Regions from separate parts of the Homo sapiens genome. Here region 1 is linked to region 2. The links come from fine-mapping of genetic effects on gene expression. A gene starts in region 2. The other region holds a variant in brackets. All regions are shown on one strand. Distances are from middle to middle.

What was found.
Region 1: its variant is fine-mapped to the expression of KLRG2 in spinal cord (GTEx, PIP 0.95).

Annotation. Positions count from the first base shown.
Region 1 is chr7:139,459,181-139,464,546 of GRCh38, forward strand. All of the region lies in intron 3 of KLRG2 (killer cell lectin like receptor G2), which reads right to left. Among named protein-coding and RNA genes, the nearest start is that of KLRG2, 22 kb to the right of the region's middle. RefSeq lists an enhancer at 2,738-3,507. The variant C/A (reference allele first, on the strand shown) is at 2,610.
Region 2 is chr7:139,480,394-139,485,759 of GRCh38, forward strand. It overlaps KLRG2 (killer cell lectin like receptor G2), which reads right to left and starts at 3,280. Exons shown (of 5, transcript NM_198508.4): 1 at 2,493-3,280. The coding sequence starts at 3,249. RefSeq lists an enhancer at 2,440-2,519 and silencers at 2,650-2,929, 3,390-3,449.

The DNA.
Region 1 (5,366 bases), 21 kb before region 2:
TTTGGATAGTTAAACCCACCTCCCCCCATTGGCAACAAGGAGTTCTAAGCTCATCTGAGGTGAACCTGTCTGATGTGAGGCCCGTTTTACTGGCTTCCTGTTGGCATTTGCTGTGCTCAATCTGTCTGTCTCAGGACAAAATGCTATGTTCATCAGTCTTAAGCGATGGGATTCCATAAGTAAGTAATGGGATGAACTATGTCCCTGCAACAATATGATCCCCGCCCTGCTTGGCTCCTGGCCCTAACTCTAGGCACTCTAGAGACCACCTTTGGTCCCACCTACATTCCTACAGGCCTTCAATTTGCAGATACAACCAGTCTGAGTCGTTTGGTACAGGAGCCTGGGGTGCTTTCTTTGCACAGCCCATTCCCATCTCAACGCCAACACCTCAGGGCCCAGCCCAGGCGCTGAGCAGAAACTGATCCCTACTGAGCTCCTCTTGCCCTCACAGGCTACTGGTGCCCTGGCATATTCCCCCATTCACAGCATATATTATTTGTGGAACATTTAGAAAATAAATGTTATTCCTGGTTACACAGTAATCTGTGCTCACTGAAAAACATCACCTCCAGATTTTTTTTTTTTGAGACGGAGTTTTACTCTTCTTGCCCAGGCTGGAGTGCAGTGGTGCAATCTCAGCTCACTGCAACCTCCGCCTCCCAGGTTCAAGCGATTCTCCTGCCTCAGCCTCCCAAGTAGCTGGAACTACAGGCACCCGCCACCACACTGGCTAATTTTTTGTATTTTTAGTAGAGACAGGGTTTCACCATGTTGGCGAGGATGGTCTTGATCTCTTGACCTCATGATCCGCCCGCCTCGGCTTCCCAAAGTGCTGGGATTACAGGTGTGAGCCCCCGCGCCTGGCCATATTTGTATATTTTTAGTAGAGGGTGGGTTTCACCATGTTGGCCAGGCCGGTCTCAAACTCCTGACCTCAGATGATCTGCCCGCCTTGGCCCCCCAAAGTGTTGGGATTACAGGCATGAGCCACTGGGCCCTCCAGCAGATTTTTACATGGGAAAAATGGGAAGATACCAGGACTGTTTCCTGAGCCTGCCATGGGGGTTGCGAGGGGACCTGGCCCCGACGTTGTTGGTGGCTCCAATGTCATCGTCCTGGTCTGTTTAGTTTGTTTTCTGTTGCTGTCACAGATTACCACAGAAAGGGTAATTTATAAGGAAAATCAATTACTTCTTACAGTTTTGGAGGCTGGGTCAGGTGCAGCGGCTCATGCCTGTAATCCCAGCCCTTTGGGAGGCCAAGATGGGAAGGTTGCTTGAGGCTAGGAGTTTGAGACCAGCCTGGGCAACAGAGTGAGACCCTGTCTGTACTAAAAGTCAAAAAAATTAGCCAGGCGTGGTTCCAGCTACTCAGGAGGCTGAGATGGGAGGATTGCTTGAGCCTGGGAGGTGGAGGCTGCAGCAAGCCATGATCACAACACTGCACTCCAGCCTGGGGAACAGAGCAAGACCCTGTCTAAAAAAAAAAAAGACAGCTGGGCACAGTGGGTCACACCTGTAATCTCAGCACTTTGGGAGGCCAAGGCAGGCAGATCACTTGATGTCACGAGTTTGAGACCGGCCTGGCTAACATGGTGAAACTCCACCTCTACTAAAAATACAAAAATTAGCTGCATGTGGTGGCAGGAGCCTGTAATTCTAGCTACTTGGGAGGCTGAGGCACCAGAATCGCTTGAACCCGGGAGGCAGAGGTTGCAGTGAACTAAGTGGCGACCTGCCACTGCACTCGAGCCTGGGTGACAGAGCGAGACTCTGTGTCAATTGAAAAAAAGAGGAGGTTGGGCGAGGGGGCTCACGCCTTTAATCCCAGCACTTTGGGAGGCCAAGGAAGGTGGATCAACTGAGGTCAGGAGTTCAAGACCAGCCTGTATTTTGTCTCTACTAAAAAACACAAAAATTATCCAGGCATGGTGATGGGACCTGTAATCCCCGCTACTCAGGAGGTTAAGGCAGGAGAATTGCTTGAACTTGGGAGGTAGGCTGCAGTGAGCTGAGATCGCACCACTGCACTCCAGCCTGGGTGACAGAGCCAGACTCCATCTAAAAAAAAAAGAGAGAGAGAGAAATGTGGGGGACACACCTAAACCATAGCAGCAGTGTTGGGGTGGGGCTTCTGAGCCAGGCCTTTGGTGCAAATATCTTCTCTGACACTCTGATCAAGGGCAAGTTACTGAGCTTTTCTTTGCCACAAGATTCCTTATCGATGAAAGAGAAAAACGAATCGTTATCTTCACATCACAGGGCTGTTTGGACTTTAGGATTGCCAGGCCTCTGAGCCCAAGCTAAGCCATCATATCCCCTGTGACCTGCACGTATACATCCAGATGGCCTGAAGTAACTGAAGAATCACAAAAGAACTGAAAATGCCCTGTTCCTGCCTTAACTGATGACATTACCTTGTGAAATTCCTTCTCCTGGCTCATCCTGGCTCAAAAGCTCCCCCACTGAGCACCTTATGACCCCCGCCCCTGCCCGCCAGCGAACAACACCCTTTGACTGTAATTATCCACTACCCACCCAAATCTTATAAAGCTGCCCCACCCTTATCTCCCTTCGCTGACTCTTTTCGGACTCAGCCCGCCTGCA[C/A]CCAGGTTAAATAAACAGCCTCATTGCTCACACAAAGCCTGTTTGGTGGTCTCTTCACACGGATGCGTGTGACATTTGGTGCCATGACTCGGATCAGGGATCCTTGGGAGATCAATCCCCTGTCCTCCTGCTCTTTGCACCTACGACCTCTGGTCCTCAGACCAACCAGCCCAAGGAACATCTCACCAATTTTAAATTGGATAAGCGGCCTCTTTTTACGCTTTTCTCCAACCTCTCTCACTATCCCTCAACCTCTTTCTCCTTTGAATCTTGGTGCCATCTTTCAGTCTCTCCCTTCTCTTAATTTCAGTGCCTTTCCTTTTCTGGTAGAGACAGGAGACGCGTTTTATCCGTGAACCCAAAACTCCATCGCTAGTTACGGACTCGGGAAAACAGTCTTCCCTTGGTGTTTAATCACGCAGGGATGCCTGCTTGATTACTCACCCACGTTTCAGAGGTGTCTGATCACACAGGGACGCCTGCCTTGGTCCTTCACCCTTAGCAGCAAGCACTGCTTTTCTTGGGGGCAAGCACCCCTCACCCCTTCTCTCCGTGTCTCTACCCCTTTTCCACTGTCCTGGGGGGCAAGCACCCCCCATCCCTTCTCTCTGTGTGTCTACCCCTTTTCCACTGTCCTGGGGGGCAAGCATCCCCCCACCTTCTCTCCGTGTCTCTACCCTCTCTTTTCTCTGGACTTGCCTCCTTCACTATAGGCAAACTTCCACCCTCCATTCCTCCTTCTTCTCCTTTAGCCTGTGTTCTCAAGAACTCAAAACCTCTTCAACTCACACCTGACCTAAAACCTAAATGCCTTATTTTCTTCTGCAATGCTGCTTGACCCCAATGCAAACTTGACAATGGTTCCAAATAGCCAGAAAACGGCACTTTCGATTTCTCCATCCTACAAGGTCTAGGTAATTCTTGTCATGAAATGGGCAAATGGTCTGAGGTGCCTGACGTCCAGGCATTCTTTTACACATCAGTCCCTCCCTAGTCTCTGTTCCCAATGCAATTAGTCCCAAATCTTGCTTCTTTCCCTCCCACCTGTCCCCTCAGTCCCAACCCCAAGCATTGCTGAGTCTTTCCAATCTTCCTTTTCTACAGACCCATCTGACCTCTCCTTTCCTCCCCAGGTTGCTCCTCACCAGGCCTAGCCAGGTCCCAATTCTTCCTCAGCCTCCGCTCCCCTACCCTATAATCCTTTTATCACCTCCTCTCCTCACACCCGACGCGGCTTACAGTTTCGTTCTGCGACTAGCCCTCCCCGACCTGCCCAGCAATTTCTTCTTAAAAGGTGGCTGGAGCCAAAGGCATGGTCAAGGTTTTTCTTTATCCGACCTCTCCCAAATCAGTTAGCGTTTAGGCTCTTTTTCATCAAATAGAAAAACCCAGCCCAGTTCTTGGCTCGTTTGGCAGCAACCTGAGACGCTTTACAGCCCTAGACCCTGAAAGGTCAGAAAGAAGGCCATCTTATTCTTAATACGCATTTTATTACCCAGTCCGCTCCTGACATTAAATAAAGCTCCAAAAATTAGATTCCAGCCCTCAAACCCCACAACAAGACTTAATTAACCTCGCCTTCAAGGTGTACAATAATAGAGCAGAGGCAGCCAGACAGCAACGCATTTCTGAGTTACAATTACTTGCCTCTGCCATGAGACAAAACCCAGCCGCACCTCCAGCATACAAGAACTTCAAAATGCCTAAGCCGCGCACACCTAAGCCACAGCGGCCAGGCGTTCCTACAGGACTTCCTCCACCAGGATCTTGCTTCAAGTGCCAGAAATCTGGCCACTGGGCCAAGGAATGCCCGCAGCCCAGGATTCCTCCTAAGCCGTGTCCCATGTGTATGGGACCCCACTGGAAATCAGACTGTCCAAGTCACCCAGCAGCCAACCCCAGAGTCCCTGGAACTCCGGCCCAAGGCTCTCTGACTGACTCCTTCCCAGATCTTCTTGACTTAGCGGCTGACGACCGACGCTGCCCAATTGCCTCAGAAGCTTCCTGGACCATCACAGATGCTTTGGGTAACTCTTATAGAGTGAAGGGTAAGTCCATCCCCTTCTTAATCAATACTGAGGCTACCCACTCCACATTACCTTCTTTTCAAGGGCCTGTTTGTTATGCCTCCATAACTGTTGTGGGTGTTGACGGCCAGGCTTCTAGACCTCTTAAAACTCCCCAACTCTGATGCTAGCTTGGACAATATTCTTTTATATACTCCTTCTAGTTATCCCCACCTGCCCAGCTCCCTTGTTAGGTCAAGACATTTTAACTAAATTATCTGCTTCCCTGACTGTTCCTGGGCTACAGCCACATCTCATTGCTGCCTTTTTCCCCAGTTCAAAGCCTCCTTTGCATTCTCCCCTTGTATCTCCCCACCTTAATCCACAAGGGTAGGACACCTCTACTCCCTCCTTGGCGATTGATCATGCACCCCTTACCATCCCATTAAAACCTAATCACCCATACCCCGCTAAACGCCAATATCCCATCACACAGCACGCTTTAGAAGCCTGTTATTACTCGCCTGTTACAGCATGGCCTTTTAAAACCTATAAACTCTCCTTACAATTCCCCCATTTTACCTGTCCTAAAACCAGACAAGTATTACAGGTTAGTTCAGGATCTGCGCCTTATCAACCAAATTGTTTTGCCTATCCACCCCGTGGTGCCAAACCCATATACTCTCCTATCCTCAATACCTCCCTCCACAACCCATTATTCTATTCTAGATAAACCTAGCTGACCCCATAA
Region 2 (5,366 bases):
CGTTTAAGTTCCAACTTTATATTCTGGAGAAAGAAGCCAGATATTCTTTTTTTTTTTTTTTTTTTTTTTGGAGACAGAGTCTTGCTTTGTCGCCCAGGTTGGAGTGCAGTGGTGCGATCTCGGCTCACTGCAACCTCTGCCTCCCGGGTTCAAGCAATTCTCCTGCCTCAACCTCCTGAGTAGCTGGGGTTACAGGTGCGTGCCACCATGCCCGGCTAATTTTTTGTATTTTTAGTAGAGACGGGGTTTCACCATGTTGGCCAGGTTGGTCTTGAACTCCTGACCTTGTGATCTGCCCACCTCGGCCTCCCAAAGTGCTGGGATTACAGGTGTGAGCCAACGCGTCTGGCCCTTTTTTTTTTTTTTTTTTGAGACTGAGTCTTTCTATCGCCCAGGCTGGAGTGCAGTGGCATGATCTCAGCTCACTGCAACCTCCACCTCCTGGGTTCAAGCAATTCTCATGCCTTAGCCTCCCAAGTAGCTGGGATTACAGGTGACTGCCACCATGCCTGGCTAATTTTCATATCTTTAGTAGAGATGGGGTTTGACGATGTTGGTCAGGCTGGTCTTGAACTCCTGACCCTAAGTGATCCGCCCGCCTTGGCCTCCCAAAGTGCTGGGATTACAGGCGTGAGCCACCGTGCCCAGCTTCAGGAGCCTTATATGTGGAAGAGGAAGACAGGTGGTGAGCATCAGAAGTGGCAGCAGGAGGACTCTACCAACAACGCTGGATTTTAATATAGAGAAGGGCTTGACCTAAGAAAAGCCCAGAAGCTAGCAAAGGCAAGAAAAGGGAGTCTCCCCTAGACCCCCAGAAAGGAATGCAGCCCCACTGAAAACTCGATTTTAGACCAGTGAGCCGGCATTATAGACTTCTGACTTAACGGAACTGTAAGATAATACATTTGTGTCACTTAAAGACACTAAGTTTGTGGTAATTTGTTACAACAGCAATAGAAAACTAATATTCCATCACACAGAAAATGTGCTCACATCAAACTCTGCAAAAGTTCCTGAGTGATCCAAGCCCCTGAACCCTAGCCCTGTCTAAGAACCTCTCAACTAGAGGCCCTGGGAATTTGGTGCCTGTCAGTGGGCTTGGCCTGCTTCTCAATCAGCCAAGCTTTTGCCAGTTTGCCTGCTGGGCGGGGCTCTGACCCCTCCTGGCCGTTGCTCCTTCCAGTCTCTCTACCTAGCAGGGATCCCTAGCACCCCCTACTCCTACTCACCTTTCAAGATGTGGCTTTCTGGCTGGCCCGGTGGTTCACACCTGTAATCCCAGCACTTTGGGAGGCTGAGGCGGCTGGATCACCTGAGGTCAGGAGTTCCAGACCAGCCTGGCCAACATGATGAAACCCCCTGTCTACCAAAAATACAAAAACTAGCCAGGCATGGTGGCCGGCGCCTGTAATCCCAGCTACTCGGGAGGAGGCTGAGGCAGGAGAATCGCTTGAATCCAGGAGGCGAAGGTTGCAGTGAGCCGAGATTGTGCCATTGCACTCCAGCCTGGGTGACAAGCGCAAAACTTATTTCTTAAAAAAAAAAGAAAGAAAAAAGAAAAAAAGAAAAAAATTGGCTATCTCTTGCCCCAAATTCACCAACTACTCCCTCCAGTCTCCTTATCCAGGACAGTCTGTATCTTTTGTGGGCTCTTTCTTCTGTGTCAAGCTCCCCCTCCCCCACACCACAAAATAACCAGCCGCACATACTACTGGCACATCTACCCTGTGGTCCCACTCACTATCTACTGAATGGATGAGTGTTTGGGGCTAAATGTTCCTCAGTGTGGTGGAAAGAAAGCAGCAGCCTGGACCTTCCAGAAAGTCCTTGGCAGTGCAGGGATGGGGGGATCTGGGCTGCCACCCCTGCCACCTGATCCTGAATGACTTCCCCTCATCTGGAGTTCCTTCCACTGCTACTTCTCAAAGGTGCTGCGCATGCTAAGAGGGAATTTGAAAGTTCGGGAGTGCGGGTAGGGGAGGATGAGAAGGGGAGTGGCTTTACTCTTTTTTTTTTGAGACGGAGTTTCTCTCTTGTTGCCCAGGCTGGAGTACAATGGCATGATCTCGGCCCACTGCAACCTCCGCTTCTCGGGTTCAAGCGACTCTCCTGTCTCAGCCTCCTGAGTAGCTGGGATTACAGGTGAATGCCACCATGCCAGGCTAATTTTTGTATTTTTAGTAGAGACGGGGTTTCATCATATTGGTCAGGCTGGTCTCGAACTCCTGACCTCAGGTGATCCGCCCGCCTCGGCTTCCCAAAGTGCTGGGATTACAGGCGTGAGACACGGCAACAATGTGAATTACAGTTACGTAGACAGGAATGTTATTGATTGTAAGCCCGAGAGGCCAGATCGGGTTGGGGATCGGGATGGCCAACTGGGTCCCTTAGTCGGTCAGCTGCCCAGCGGTCCAGGGCTGGGCGGGTGTGGGGGTTTCGGCTACGTCCACCCGACCTGGCGGCGTCGGCTGCCGGCGCAGGTGAGCACTCACCCGTAAGCGTTACGGCCCGGGGCAGCTTCTCGTCGCCGTCCAACCCCGCGCGGGGCAACAGCGCCGCATCCTCCTTCTCCAGCCCCAGCTCCTTGCAGCGGCAGCACGTGGGGGAGCCCGGGGAGCCGGCGCTTCCTTCCGCGGGGCTGGCCCGGCCCTCTGCGTCGCAGCCGCTCTCCGTCCGGGCTGCAGCCAGCGGCGAGCGGCGGCCCCACGTGCCGCCCTGGGATGGTGCGCGCAGCAGGAGCTGGTGCGCCGGGTCCGCGTGGCGGGAGAAGGCAGGGGACTCGGGCACCGGCACCTTGAGGAAGCGCGTGGAGGGCCTGGGCGATGGCGTGCTGCTGCCACCGGCCGCGCCCACGGGCTTCACGCGCACATCTACCTGCAGCTCCATGGGCGCCCAGGCGCTGGGCGCAGGCTCAGCCCCGGGCGCCTCGCCATTCCGGGGCAGCTTGACCAAGGCAGGGCCCGGTGACGGCGGCTCGGGGCAGACCCCGTAGCCCAGGCTGAGCGGCGGCACGCGCGGGGACCCGGGGCGAGGCGAAGGCGGCTTTTTCTTGCTCGAGGGCTCCAGGCCTGCGCCCGCCGCCTTCTCCACGGCCCCGGCCGGACTTGGGCTGCTTTCGGGACCTTCAGGTTGTCGCACCTTCGCGGGCACCTGCGGCTGCTCCAGCGTGGGGACCAGGCTTCCCACGGGCTCCATTGGGAGCTCTGCCCCGGCTTGGCCTCCGGGCGCAGCCTCCCAAGACTCCTCCATCCCGCGCGCCCCGCCACCCGGAGACGCTGAGGAGCGCACCTGGGCCCAGTGCAGAGGAGCTTCGCTCTCCTCCGTCCGGATTGGTCCAGCCGCGTCGCCGAAGTTGTCAGGCCACGCCCCTCCCCGAAGGACCCCGCTGTGATTGGCTGTGGCTGAGGTTCTGCTGCCCCGACCCCCTTCGGGACACAGCCCCGGCCTCCACCAGGCACTGGGAGGGAGCTGAGAACGGCAGCGGGGCCAGGCGAGGGTTGCAGGGTGGGCGGGAGCTCTCGGGAGAAAAGCAGAACACCAGCGGAGGCTTGTGGCAGGGAACCCGGAGCCCCGCCTGACCCTTCCCTCTTCTTTGTCTCTGACCTCACCCATTTTCCCCTCCAGCCCTATGCCGGGGTGTTGGTTTTGAGAGTTACAGTTTGGGCGGGGAAGGATTGGCCAAGCCTGTCTGGATCCTGGGACCTCAGAGAAATCAGAATCCAAAGGAATTGGGGCGACCTGTGGAAAAGTAGCCCAGTTGGTTGTCCTGACAATCCAGCAGGGTTTCGAAAGGACTCTCCATCATACTTGGGAGGACTCCCCCACTGAGTAACGCTAAGAGAAAAGAAACAGGGCGTGGATAAGCAATTCTTCTTTTTTTTTTTTTTTTTGAGACGGAGTCTTGCTCTGTCGCCAGGCTGGAGTGCAGTGGCCCGATCTCGGCTCACTGCAATCTCCGCCTCCCAGGTTCAAGCGATTCTCCTGCCTCAGCCTCGTGAGTAGCTGGGACTACAGGCACCCACCCCACCACGCCCGGCTAATTTTTGTATTTTTAGTAGAGACGGGGTTTCACCATGTTGGCCAGGATGGTCTCGATCTCCTGACCTCGTGATCTGCCCGCCTCGGCCTCCCAAAGTGCTGGGGTTACAGGCGTGAGCCACCGCGCCCCGCCTGGCCTCTGGTATTTTTAAGTGCCCCCAGGGTAGGGTTGGCAGATAAAATGCAGGCCACTCAGTTTAATTTGAATTTCAGTTAAACAAGGGATAGTTTTTAGCATAGTAGTCCTCCCTTATCCACTGGGATAGTTCCAAGACCTCCCAGTGAATGCCTGAAACTTTGGATAGCACCAAACCCTATATATACTGTTTTTTTCTATACAAGCGGTCTTCAAAAGGTTCATGGAAAATTCATACTATGAAAAAAACTATGCATGGATTTGAAAATTTTTTGGCACCAAAATAAATTTGTACTAACTTGTTATCACATGTCTCGACAAGATCTAGTTTGAGGCACTAAGAAGGATAAGACATCAGTTTGAAAAGAGCTCCTGTCAGAGCAACAAGGATTCTGCTAAATTTGAAGCAAGAATAATCATCACATTTATGGTGACATCATTGATATTTTTATGAAAAGCTCATGGGGACAATGCCCCCAAGAAACCAGCAGTTTGCAAATGGAAAACTCGTTTTAAGAAGGGATGAGGCCAGGCGTGGTGGCTCAGCCTGTAATCCCAGCACTTTGGGAGGCCGAGGCAGGTGGATCACTTGAGGTAAGGAGTTCGAGACCAGCCTGGCCAACATGCTGAAATCCTGTCTCTACTAAAAAAGCAAAAATTAAGCTGGGCGCGGCAGCTCACGCCTGTAATCCCAGCACTTTGGGAGGCCGAGGTGGGCGGATTGACTGAGCTCAAGAGTTCAAGACCAGCCTGGGCAACACAGTGAAACCCCGTCTCTACTAAAATACAAAAAATTAGCTGGCATGGTGGCATGCGCCTGTAGTCTCAGCTACTCGGGTGCCTGAAAATACAAAAAATTAGCCGGGCGTGGTAGTGGGTGCCTGTAATCCTAGCTACTCGGGAGGCTGAGGCAGGAGAATTGCTTGAACTCGGGAGGCAGAGTTTGCAGTGAGCCGAGATTGTGCCACTGTACTCCAGCCTGGGTGACAGAAGGAGACTCCATCTCAAAAAAAAAAAAAAAGAGAAGGGATGAGACAATGTTGAGGATAAAGCCCTCAGTGGCAGACCATCCACATCAATTTTTGAGTAAAATAATTAATCTTATTTGTGCCCTCATGAAGAGGACCAACGATTAACAGCACAAACAACAGCCAACACCAAAGACGTCTCAATTGGTTCAGCTTACACTTTT